2 separate regions of the Homo sapiens genome follow, and region 2 is linked to region 1. The links come from fine-mapping of genetic effects on plasma protein levels. A gene starts in region 1. The other region holds a variant in brackets. All regions are shown on one strand. Distances are between the middles of the regions. Region 1 holds the start of SEPTIN8 (septin 8). Region 2 overlaps KIF3A (kinesin family member 3A).

The links. A credible set is the group of variants that fine-mapping cannot tell apart. PIP is the chance, under the fine-mapping model, that this variant and not a neighbour inherited with it causes the effect. Protein levels are from antibody-based Olink assays in UK Biobank. Linkage for the fine-mapping came from a reference panel and not from the study's own genotypes, which makes the PIPs less certain.
Region 2: its variant is the best candidate, but not a certain one, in a credible set for the plasma level of the SEPTIN8 protein (UK Biobank, PIP 0.60).

The regions. Positions count from the first base shown.
Region 1 is chr5:132,775,037-132,780,413 of GRCh38, reverse strand. SEPTIN8 (septin 8) reads left to right here and starts at 3,175. Exons shown (of 10, transcript NM_001098811.2): 1 at 3,175-3,306. The coding sequence starts at 3,277. RefSeq lists silencers at 2,855-2,904, 2,995-3,404.
Region 2 is chr5:132,710,889-132,716,265 of GRCh38, reverse strand. It overlaps KIF3A (kinesin family member 3A), which reads left to right. Exons shown (of 19, transcript NM_001300791.2): 7 at 1-21; 8 at 335-509; 9 at 5,209-5,307. Among named protein-coding and RNA genes, the nearest start is that of KIF3A, 24 kb to the left of the region's middle. The variant C/T (reference allele first, on the strand shown) is at 2,866.

The DNA of each region.
Region 1 (5,377 bases):
TCTGTGGCTGATTCTGTTGGTGTATGGCTGATTATTTTCTTGCTTGTCATTTTTTATATTTTAATTTTCTAATAAACAAAAATTTCATAGTATTAGAAAAAAAGATTTTCAGGCATCTCACTGGAACGGATAGTCCAGAAACAGACTTGGCAGAGATGGCTGCAGCCTCCCAACATCTGCTCTCCTCTAACATTTTATGGACTTTTTAGCTGTGCACATGATAGCCAGAATAAAGACCCCATTTTCCAGCTCTGGCCAATAGCATGTAAGCAGAAGTGCCACATGGCAGCTTCTGGAATCCTCTGAGAGTTGGCTCATTTGCACTGTATTACTATCATTGCCTCTTGCTGCCTGGAATGCAGATATCACCATATTGGACCATGAGAGCAAGACCACGTAAGGCCAAGCAACAAGAAGAAAGTGTGCGTAGAGAGTCACATAAGCCCTGGACTACCTACCTGGACAATGTAAGAAAGGAAGACATTTCTATCTTGTTGAAGCAGCTGAACATAATCCTAACTGATGCACAACCTGCACACACATACAGAAATGTCGTCTGTGATACCATTTGCATTGTACATCAGAGGGGAAAGATGAAACAACTGGTTTGGCATACACATACACAAATTGCCTAGATGTGAAGGAGTTAAAAAAAAGTTTTTAAAGAAAATTTATTCTTTTCTCACAAACACAATATCTTTGTGAAGTTAGGGAAGGGTCTTTATTTTTAGAAGCCAAAGTAAAAATAATAAATAAAATAACAAGTACACTTGACAACATCAAAAATTTAAACTTCTACATGACAAAAGAAAGTATAAACAAAAGTAAAAGACAAGCAAGAGGCCTGGAGGGCAGCATTTCCTGAAGCGAAGTCTTGTCATGTTCAAGTTCAGTGTGGTGCTGGGTATGTATGCAGGGTAGAGACAAGGGGCAACAAAGTGTGGGTAGAGCTGTATATTCCCCTTTCTTTTGCACAGAAAATGCATATTAGCTGATCAAAAGCTGAGGACTTCTACAGAACCCTGTCTGTGTATGGAACTCAGCATTCCCCAGTTATTTGACGGTGAGACCAATCTTTTTGTGGTAAAATCTATGAACTAACCTCTAGGTGTATACGAAACACTCAGAAATGCTGCCATAAGAAATAACACTTTGCCATGTGAGAAATGATCGTTATATTCACCTTTTGAGCCCTCATAGATAATTCTCACTCTTTTATAAGTTCTGACCAGCAGCAGCATAAAATGAGAGAAATTTCGGCATTGTGGAATAGGAGGAAATTCTCCTGTTTACTCCTACAGAGCAGAGTGAATATATCCCAAAAGAAGGAAGTCACCTGTACTCTGAGCTTTTCCTTCTCATAGCCACTGGCCAGGACTGTAAGAAGTACATGTTTTGAAATATTTCCGATTAGAGATAAAAGACCATTTTGAAGATAATTTAGGGCTAGTCCCAGAGAGTTGTAATGCAGAACTGCCATACGGATGGCAGTTGGTCGTGATTTCTTGTTAGTTATAGGGAAAGAAAAAGGAAACAGTAGATACAGTCTAGGATGATCAATTCAGTATTGACCACACATTCTCTGGGCTCTGAGATTAAGGCCCTTGTAGTCTAGAGAGGGAGATTTTATTTAATATTATATTTTAAGTACAACTTAAAGCCCTTTACTTATGTTATTTAATCCTGTAACATAGGTGCTATACTTGTTCTCATTTTTAGGACCAGGGAAGGGAGGCATAGTTAAGTAACTTGCCTAGCTAAGGTTAAAAAGCTAGCAGGATTCCACCAGGAAGGTTTGCCATAGATCCAGCTACCCTAACCACTGCTCTGCTCTATTTCTTGTAGATAACTTTAATACAGCATGGGAAACAGCAACATAGAGAGAGGAGCAAAGTGAAAACATTGTCAGGAAGGTCCAGCGGGAAGTCAGTCCACCTTGGGGACAAGCTACAGTTTGCCTGGGAGAGTGAGGAGGGGAAAGCCAAATCAGGGTGACAAGGTCAAACAGCAGAGAGGGGGCTCCTCTTAAGCCAGGTGTGCTAAGTCGAACGTGGTCTTTAGGCACCTCCAGTCAGCACAAGTTTCTGAGTAGGAGAAACAGGTCAGGTTGCTTCTCAGCATACTGGGGTGAGGGGTGTGTGTGGAGGGTGGACCAACCTGGGATGAGGCCAGTGGGGGGTAGGGGGCAAACCTTGCCACATTCCCAGAAAGAGCAGAGAGAAAGGCAGAGGGAAGAGAAAGAAACGGGGTTTCAGAGGATTTGGGAGCTGCTTTTGTATAGATTGTCAGTGAGAAGGATACAGAACCTCCTGAGGCCTCCGACCCTGGCGTAAGTGTTAATTTTCTGAACGTTTTGAGCAGTGACATTAGCGGAGAGAACGTGCACGCACTGGGAGTGGTCATCCTCTTTGCACAATGGTGGAACCATTAAGACGTTGTCCCAAGCCCTTGGGACAGGCAGGGTGATGGACACTTGCAATCTGACGCCTTGACCGTCGAGCTCCGCTTTTCTATTGCAGGAATCCCAGCCTAAACTGCGCATCCTGCTCGTTGGTTGCACAAGGAGCCGAAGGCTGGTCCCTTGCCCGGGAAGGCCGCCTGGCCGGACGCGCGGGTCCCGCCGGGGTTCCCGCCTTAGCTCCGGCCGGAGCATCAGGTGGGGCCCAAGACACCCGCAGACTAGGCTGCCGCGGCCTCTCCCGGATCCGACGGGTCTCCCGCAGCTTGTCCACACTCTGGTTGGTGGTCCCAGCACATTTGCAGGCTCCAGCGGGTGGAGACGGCTTGGTGGGGGAGATCTCTAGGGCGCACGCCGTGCCCCACTTCCCCCTTACGGGAAAGGCTTTCCAGCGCGCGGACCCAGGAGACTCTCACCTAGGCTCGGCCCCAGGCTCCAGGGGACACGCAGAGGCCCGCCGGGCACCAGCCCCGAGCCCCCCGACACTGCCGTCCCGGTCCCCCAACGCGCGGACTACAAGTCCCAGCAGTCCCCGCAGCTGGCACCTCCCGCCTCGCCGCGGAGACCCCCGGCCGTCCAAGCGGCGGGGCTCCGGCTGCGCTCGTGGCCGGGCCGGGCGGGGAGGCCGGTCCCGCGGGCGGGGGCAGGGGCGGCTCCGCGGCTTCTCCCGCCGCCGCCGCCAAGGGGAGTTTCCAGGAAGTGGCCATATTGGATCCATTCAGCCGCAGCCGCCCGGGCGGAGCGCGTCCCGCAGCCGGCTGGTCCCTGTCGCTGCCCCTGCGCTCGTCCCAGCCCACCCGCCCGGTGCGGAGCTCGCCATGGCGGCCACCGACCTGGAGCGCTTCTCGGTGAGGGCCCCGCTGGGCCACGGCGCGCGCGGGAGGCGCGGGGCGCAGGAGGGGCCGCCCTGCAGCTGGCGGGGGGCGCGAAGCGGGCTGTCAGCGCCTCACGGCCGGGCCTCGACACCGGGCCAGCTCGAGGACCCCGGCGCGGGCTCTCGGCCGCGCTATCGGGGGGTCCCGGAGCGTCGGGCGGCCTGCCTTGCCGGGCGGCTGGTCGGGGTCGCTTCCTGGGGCGCAGGCAAGGCTAACCCCTTTCGCGGGAAGGAGCAAAGACCCGCCTGGCTCCGGGCAGGTGCGAAGATAGAGTGGCGCCCGCGGGGCCGCAGGTGAGGGTCCGGGACACTCCGGACCCTATCGCCCAGGGTGTTTCTTTCTGCACACTTGGGGAAGAGTCCTAGCCGCACAGGTGCTGCGGGATAGGTACAGCCGGGGAGGATGGAGGCCCCAGGATCCGAGAGAGTCTCCCACACGAGCCCAGGACAGTTGCAGACTTGAGTCCTGAAGACCCTTGGCCTGCTTTTCCTTCCTCCCCCGCTCCCCTCTGCCCCGCTCCCCACGCCGGAATCCTGGGTGCGACTCCAGGCAGGTCAGGCCTCAGTGGTCGGGTCTGCGGCAGCCATTCGCCAGGAGCTGGAGGGATTCCAGACTCAGCCCAGTGGGCGTTTATTTGGGCTCCAGTCCAGGTCCTCAGAAGGTTGATGTCCCTGGTGGTCCCTGCAGGGGTCTCACTGGGCCTGAGCCTGCCGACAGCCAACTTACTAAAGGCTTTCATAATTCACTCGCGGGAGGGAGGCCTTTGGGGGGTTGTATCTGGACATCCCCTGCTGTCTAAGGCTGGATCTGGGTGTGTCTGGGAGGCTAGGCTGTGACAGTGAAGGAAGCTGTGTCCTCTTGCCAGCATGTAAGGCCCTGGTCGGCTGGAAGGGGGAGGAGGGGGAGAAGGAGGAGGAGGAGGAGGGAGGCCCAGGGCTGTTGGAGGGAAGGGGGAATTCTGAATATGTGAACGATAACGAATTGGTTCTGGGGCTAAATAAGGGAGCCAGGACTTATGTAATTAATGCTATAAATACCGTCATCCCAATTTATATATGTAAATTTTCCATTTAATCTGAAAATACATTTCTTATTCTACTTTGGAAATGTGCATGACTAAAGCAGGAGCTCTTGGTTTCATAATTTCTAGACTCGGGTGTTTTATTCCCATTGGAGAGGGGGTCGTATGTCAGTTAAGTAAGTTTAAATACATGAGGAACAGATTCAGAGGCTGGGCTACTCAGAGATTCACTTCGCCCCGTATTATAAATTGGAATTTATGTACCGGAGGAGGGCAGTGCCTGAATCCTAACAGACCTGCTGATTAGCTGGAGGCCAAGAGACCCGTGAGTGCCTGGGTGTCTCTGCATGTGTGTCTGTGTGCATTTTCTGTGCCCAGCTGACCAGAAAGTTATGTCTGGGTCTTGTCTGTGGCCAGAGGTTTAACAGTTGATGTTGCAGGTGGGAGAGGTATGTAGAGAAACCAGAATCAGACAGCCTGATAGGAATCCTAGACACTCCTTGTTGGCCATGTGACCTTGGGCAGGTTATTTAACCCCTTGGTGCTCTCATGCGTATAATGGGATAGAAATATTTCTTCCCTCATAGGGGTATTGTGAGGATTCAACAAGAGAATCCAGGGGAGGTACTTAGCCCTGTGTCTGGCACATGGTAAGGACACAATAAATAATATATGCTACCTATTGTCCACGTGGATGTGAGGACTGGCCCCCTATGTAAGAAGGGAGCAGAGGATGCATTTGCCCTGTTCATGGCACTCTCTGTAGAGCTTCCATCCCTGCTCGTCCAGAGATGGTCCTCAGAGGGTTAGCTGAGAGGCCATGCTGTGGGCTGGTCAAGCCTTCCCCTGGGGTCCTGTGTTTGCTCTCGGACCATTCCTGTGAGGAGTTTTGGTATTAGCTGCGGGGTGGCCAGGGCACAGAGAGGGGACTGACTCAGGCAAGGGCGTAGAGCCTGAGCGCAGGGCCTTGGTTGCTATGCCAGCTTCAGCTGGAGGGATGGACACCTTCCACACCCTCTGCAC
Region 2 (5,377 bases), 64 kb after region 1:
GGAAATTCAAAAACCATGATGGTAAGACTTAATTGGTGATATAGTTAACATCAGGCAAATTTAAGATTGTAATTTATGCCAATAATTGATACGTATCACATTTTTTAAACTTGATTATTTTACTTTTTTTGACTTGTGGTTGTCCTTTTTGTGGTACACTCGTGTATTAGCCCATAATAGTGTCCTTTGGAAACTCATGTGGTTGACACTCTCATTTTCGAGAAGGCCAAGGGTGCATATGTGCTTTAAATGTTTTTGATGTATTTGTAATGGTAGTATTAATTTTAACTCTGTCAAGTGTAAAATGATTTGTTTCATATTTCTAATTCAATAGTGTGCAAATATTGGGCCAGCAGATTACAATTATGATGAAACTATCAGTACATTACGGTATGCCAATCGTGCTAAGAATATTAAAAATAAAGCTAGAATTAATGAAGATCCAAAGGATGCTTTGCTGCGTCAGTTCCAGAAAGAAATAGAAGAACTGAAAAAGAAGCTTGAAGAAGGTAGCTTTTCCTCAAAATATTAATCTTTATGTTGGCTAAAAATACATTGTTGAACCACTAACTGTTCTAACAAAAGCCCTCTATTAAACCTTTTTTGAGCCTCTAACATTGGTAGTTAAATGAATATTTCTAGAAAGTGACTTGGTACTTACATACTTTCGCATTTTCATATTAAGCTTAAGTAAAATTACATAATATTTGTGTATGTGGTTTTTTAAAAACATTTGCATGATGTTTTGTAGATTTCATATGACCACTTTTTAAGGAATGAATGTTTATTTGTCTCTGTATAAGAGCAAATTCTGCAATGTATGTATTTAGGTGAAAATGACCAGAATTCTGGCATTGCAATCAATATCAACTAACTATTGTTTGAAGTAAAGCAAGATATTAGACAGTCATGAGTAAACCAAGTTTGCTATAAGGAAAAATGCATTGCATGACCTTTAAAATATCCTTTCATACCTAAATTTGAACATGAGATTGTATTTTGGAAATTCTTTTCTAACAATATCATGCTAGAAAGTTGGAAAATTTGAAGATCTTATTTATGAGAGTGAGACGCTTCCCAGTCATTAAGTGCTGAGTGAGTCCTTGCACCTTAATGCGAGAAACAGATCCTTTCTGATTGGTACAGAGCTCCTTCGCGAACCACGTAAACAGGGCTTTGGTTTCAAAGCACCTTTGTAGTCTGTGAGAAGACTGACTAGATCAGAGGTGAAATTCAGAGACGCCAGCATCACAAATGTTTAGAGAGGGTACTTATTTAGTAAACAAGTAGTTATTGAGGAAAAGCAGTAAGAGAACTGTTAGATAATGAAATTTGGTGTTTTAAATGTGACCACTAGGTGGTATTTATAGCCAGTATGTTTTAAAGATTTTTAATTTCTTAGCGATGTTAACGGTGAGTGCATACTTTTATTTTGCTGACTTTATGTTTTACATTTTTTTGTTGTGGTAAAATATACATGACATAAAATTTATCATTGTAACCATTGTTAGTTAAGTGTACAGTTAGTGGCATCAAGTATATTCGCATTGTTGTGCAACTGTCACCACTATTCATTTCTAGAAATTTTTCATCATCCCAAACAGAAATGCTGTGCCCATTTAAGTAGTAACTTCCTATTCTTTTCTCCCCCAGTCTCTGGTAACCACTATTCTACTTTCGGTCTCTATGAATTTGACTATTCTAGGTACCTCATATAAGTAAAATCATGGAGTATCTACTTGTGACTGGCTTATTTCACTTAACAGAACGTTGAAGGTTCATCCATATTGTAGCAAGTGCCTGAATTTTATTCCTTTTTAAAAAATTGTGGTTAAACTTGCATAACATAAAGTTTACCATTTTAATCACATTTAAGTCTACATTTCTGTGGCATTACATTCACATTGTTCTGCAGTTATCCGTCTTCAGTTTTCTTCTTGCAAAATTGAAACTTTGTACTCATTAAAAACAGTATGTACCCATTCCTCCCTTCCCCTAGTTCCTGGCCAACAACCATTCTGCTTTGTCTATGAATTTGACTGCTCTGGGTATCTTACGAAAGCGGAATTGGTGGGGCGCAGTGGCTCACGCTTGTAATCCCAGCACTTTGTGAGGCCGAGGCGGGTGGATCAGTTGAGGTCAGGAGTTCGAGACCAGCCTGGCCAACACGGTGAAACCCCATCTTTACTGAAAATACAAAAATTAGCTGGGCATGGTGGCTCTCGCCTGTAATCCCAGCTACTTGGGAGGCTGAGGCAGGAGGATCACTTGAACCTGGAAGGTGGAGGTGGCAATGAGCCGAGATTATGCCACTGCACTCCAGCCTGGGTGGCAGAGTGAGACTCCCATCTCAAAAAAAAAAAAAAAAAAAAAAAAGAAAGTGAAATACAGCATTTGTCTTTTTGTGACTGGCTTATTTCATTTAGTATAATGCCTTCAAGGGTCATCCGTGTTGTAGAATGTATCAGGACTTCTTTTTAATTCTGAATAACATTCCATTGTGTATATACTACATTTTGTTATCCATTCATCCACCAATGGACAGTTGGTTCTTTCCACCTTTTGGCTATTGTGAATAATGCTGCTATGAACGTGGGTATACTAATACCTGTTTGAATTCTTGTTTTACCATTTTTGGGGTATGTACCCAGCAATGGAATTGCTGGATTCTATGATAATACTGTTGTTAATACATTTCAGTTCATTTTTGCTCTTATGACATTTCTTTTTATAATCTAGTTAATGGAGTTGATCATATCAACAATAAAAAAGTAGGCAATAGCATTAAAATAATAATTTTTAAACTTAAAAATTATTGTAGGCTATATGCAACTTGCAAACATGATATGGAGAGTTCCTATCTAC[C/T]CTTCACCCAGCTTCACCTCATGTTAACATTTTTTATAAGCATACAACAGTTATTGAAACCAGGAGATTTACATTGATATAGTCTTATTAACTAATCTGTGGACTTTATTCAAATTTGGCCAGTTTTCCTTCCAGTGCCTCTTTTTCCTGGTCCAGGATACAATCCAGGATCACACACTGCATTTATTTGTCATGCTTTCTTTGTTTTGTTGTTGTTGTTGTTGTTGTTGTTTGTTTTTTGTTTTGAGACAGAGTCTCGCTCTGTTGCCAGGCTGGAATTCAGTGGCACAGTCTCAGCTTACTGCAACCTCTGCCTCCCTGTTCAAGCGATTCTCCTGCCTCAACCTCCTGAGTAGCTGGGACTACAGGCACATGCCACCTCGCCCAGCTAATTTTCGTATTTTTAGTAGAGACAGGGTTTCACCATGTTTGCCAGGATGGTCTTTATCCTCTGACCTCGTGATCTGCCTGCCTCGGCATCTCAAAGTGCTGGGACTACAGGCGTGAGCCACCATGCCCGGCCATGTCATGCCTTTTTAATGACGATGTCTAGCACACTTGTTCTTCAGTCTAATTCCCCAGTCTTTCTTGATCTTGACATTTTTGAAGAGTACTGGTCATATATTTGTTGAATGTTCATTAATTTGGGTTTGTCTACTTTTCTTTTATAATGACCCTGCAAAGTTTCTCCACTGCAAATCTATTGTTTTATGTTTCCATTCGTAATTAACATGTATCTTGTGGGGGATACTTTGAGACTGCAAAGGTCCTGTTTCTTGTCATACTTTCTTCTACTATTTTTAGTATTCATCAATAGTTCTTGTCTGCAACAATAATCCTGTGGCATTTGCTCAATGTTATTTTCTATTCTCATCATTTCTTCCTTGTTTAGTGTTTAGGATTCTATTGTATGGAAGAACAGCCCCTTCATTCCCATTTGTTTATTTATTCAAGTATTTATCTTATTTAGATCATGGATTATAATCCAGTGTTATCATTATTTATTTTGTTCATTGAATTGTTCCAGCTTTGGCTATTATGAGATCCTTCAGAGTAGTTCCTGTATTCTTTCAGCATGTGCTCATCAGTTTTTTTGAGCATTTGATTACTTTTTGGCACTACAAAAGGTTTTAGGTTTATCTTGTGTCTTCCTTGCCCAATCTTAGAATCATTCACTTCTCTCTGGTCCCTTCTGTAGGAGAATGGTATTTAGAAACCCAGTTTTGGGCACTAGCTGTGCTCATTACTACCAAGATGTCATTGTTTCTAAGCCCGAAGAAAAAAATATTTTTCAGAAATTTCTTCTCCCAAGACTCTGTGTTCCTTTCCATCTTGTACTTACAGGTACAATTATTACCTGGTTGTGATTAGAGTATATTTTACTTTTTTCTCCTCTATTTTATTTTGTTAGACATTTCATATGTAAACAGTGGCATTTAAAAATAGCTAATTTGAAGATGATATAGTGCTGATCTGTTTTATTGGCTTCATCATTCCTTTTTTGTTTTTTATCTTTAAGTTAATGTGTAGTTAACACTGTCTTTGTACAAATAAGCACTTCTTTTTTTGAAAATATCTTGTGATACAGTCCTAAAAGTGGGATCATTGTTACATGACAGTTCTGTGTCTCTTAAAAATACAGATTGAATGAATTATTTGAAATCTTAAACAGGAAGCTGTTTTAGAAGAAATTGTTCCTCAAAAGTGATCACATTTTTAAAAGACTGAATTAGTAACTCTACCACATAATTTATATATATATTTAAAATTATACATAAAGAAATGATTTGAATATTTTTATTTTTTTTTTTGAGACAGAGTCACTCTGTTGTTGAGGCTGGAGTACAGTGGTGCCATCTCGGCTCACTGCAACCTCTGCCTCCTGGGTTCAAGTGATTCTCCTGCCTCAGCCTCCCAAGTAGCTGGGATTACAGGTGCATGCCACCAAGCCCAGCTAATTTTTGTATTTTTAGTAGAGATGGGGTTTTGCCATGTTGGCCAGGCTGGTCTCAAACTCTTGGCCTCAAGTGATCTGCCTGCCTCAGCCTCTTAAAGTGCTGGGATTACAGGCGTGCGCCACCTTGCCTAGCCAGAATGGTTTGAAATTTTAAGTGGGTCAGAATTTAACTTCTCTTTAGAGACTTTAAAAATAAAGTCTTTTTGGATATCTCATCTGTGTCTGAGATTGGCATATCTGTTATACTTTCTAGGAGCATTTAAATAGTATTTAAATTTGTTGTTTGCAGTAACAAAAATCTGAGGAAGAAAGCTGATATAGGTATTTCCTAAATAGCTAATGACTTCGTACAGGATAAAAAACATTGTATTAAATTTCTGTCCAAGGAGAAGAAATATCAGGCTCTGATATCAGTGGGTCAGAGGAAGATGATGATGAAGAGGGTGAGGTTGGAGAAGATGGAGAGAAAAGGAAAAAAAGAAGGGGTAAGTTCTGTTTAGTAATCTGATTTGTAGAAATTAGGTGGTTTCACAAGGTGGTAGAGTGCATGACTTT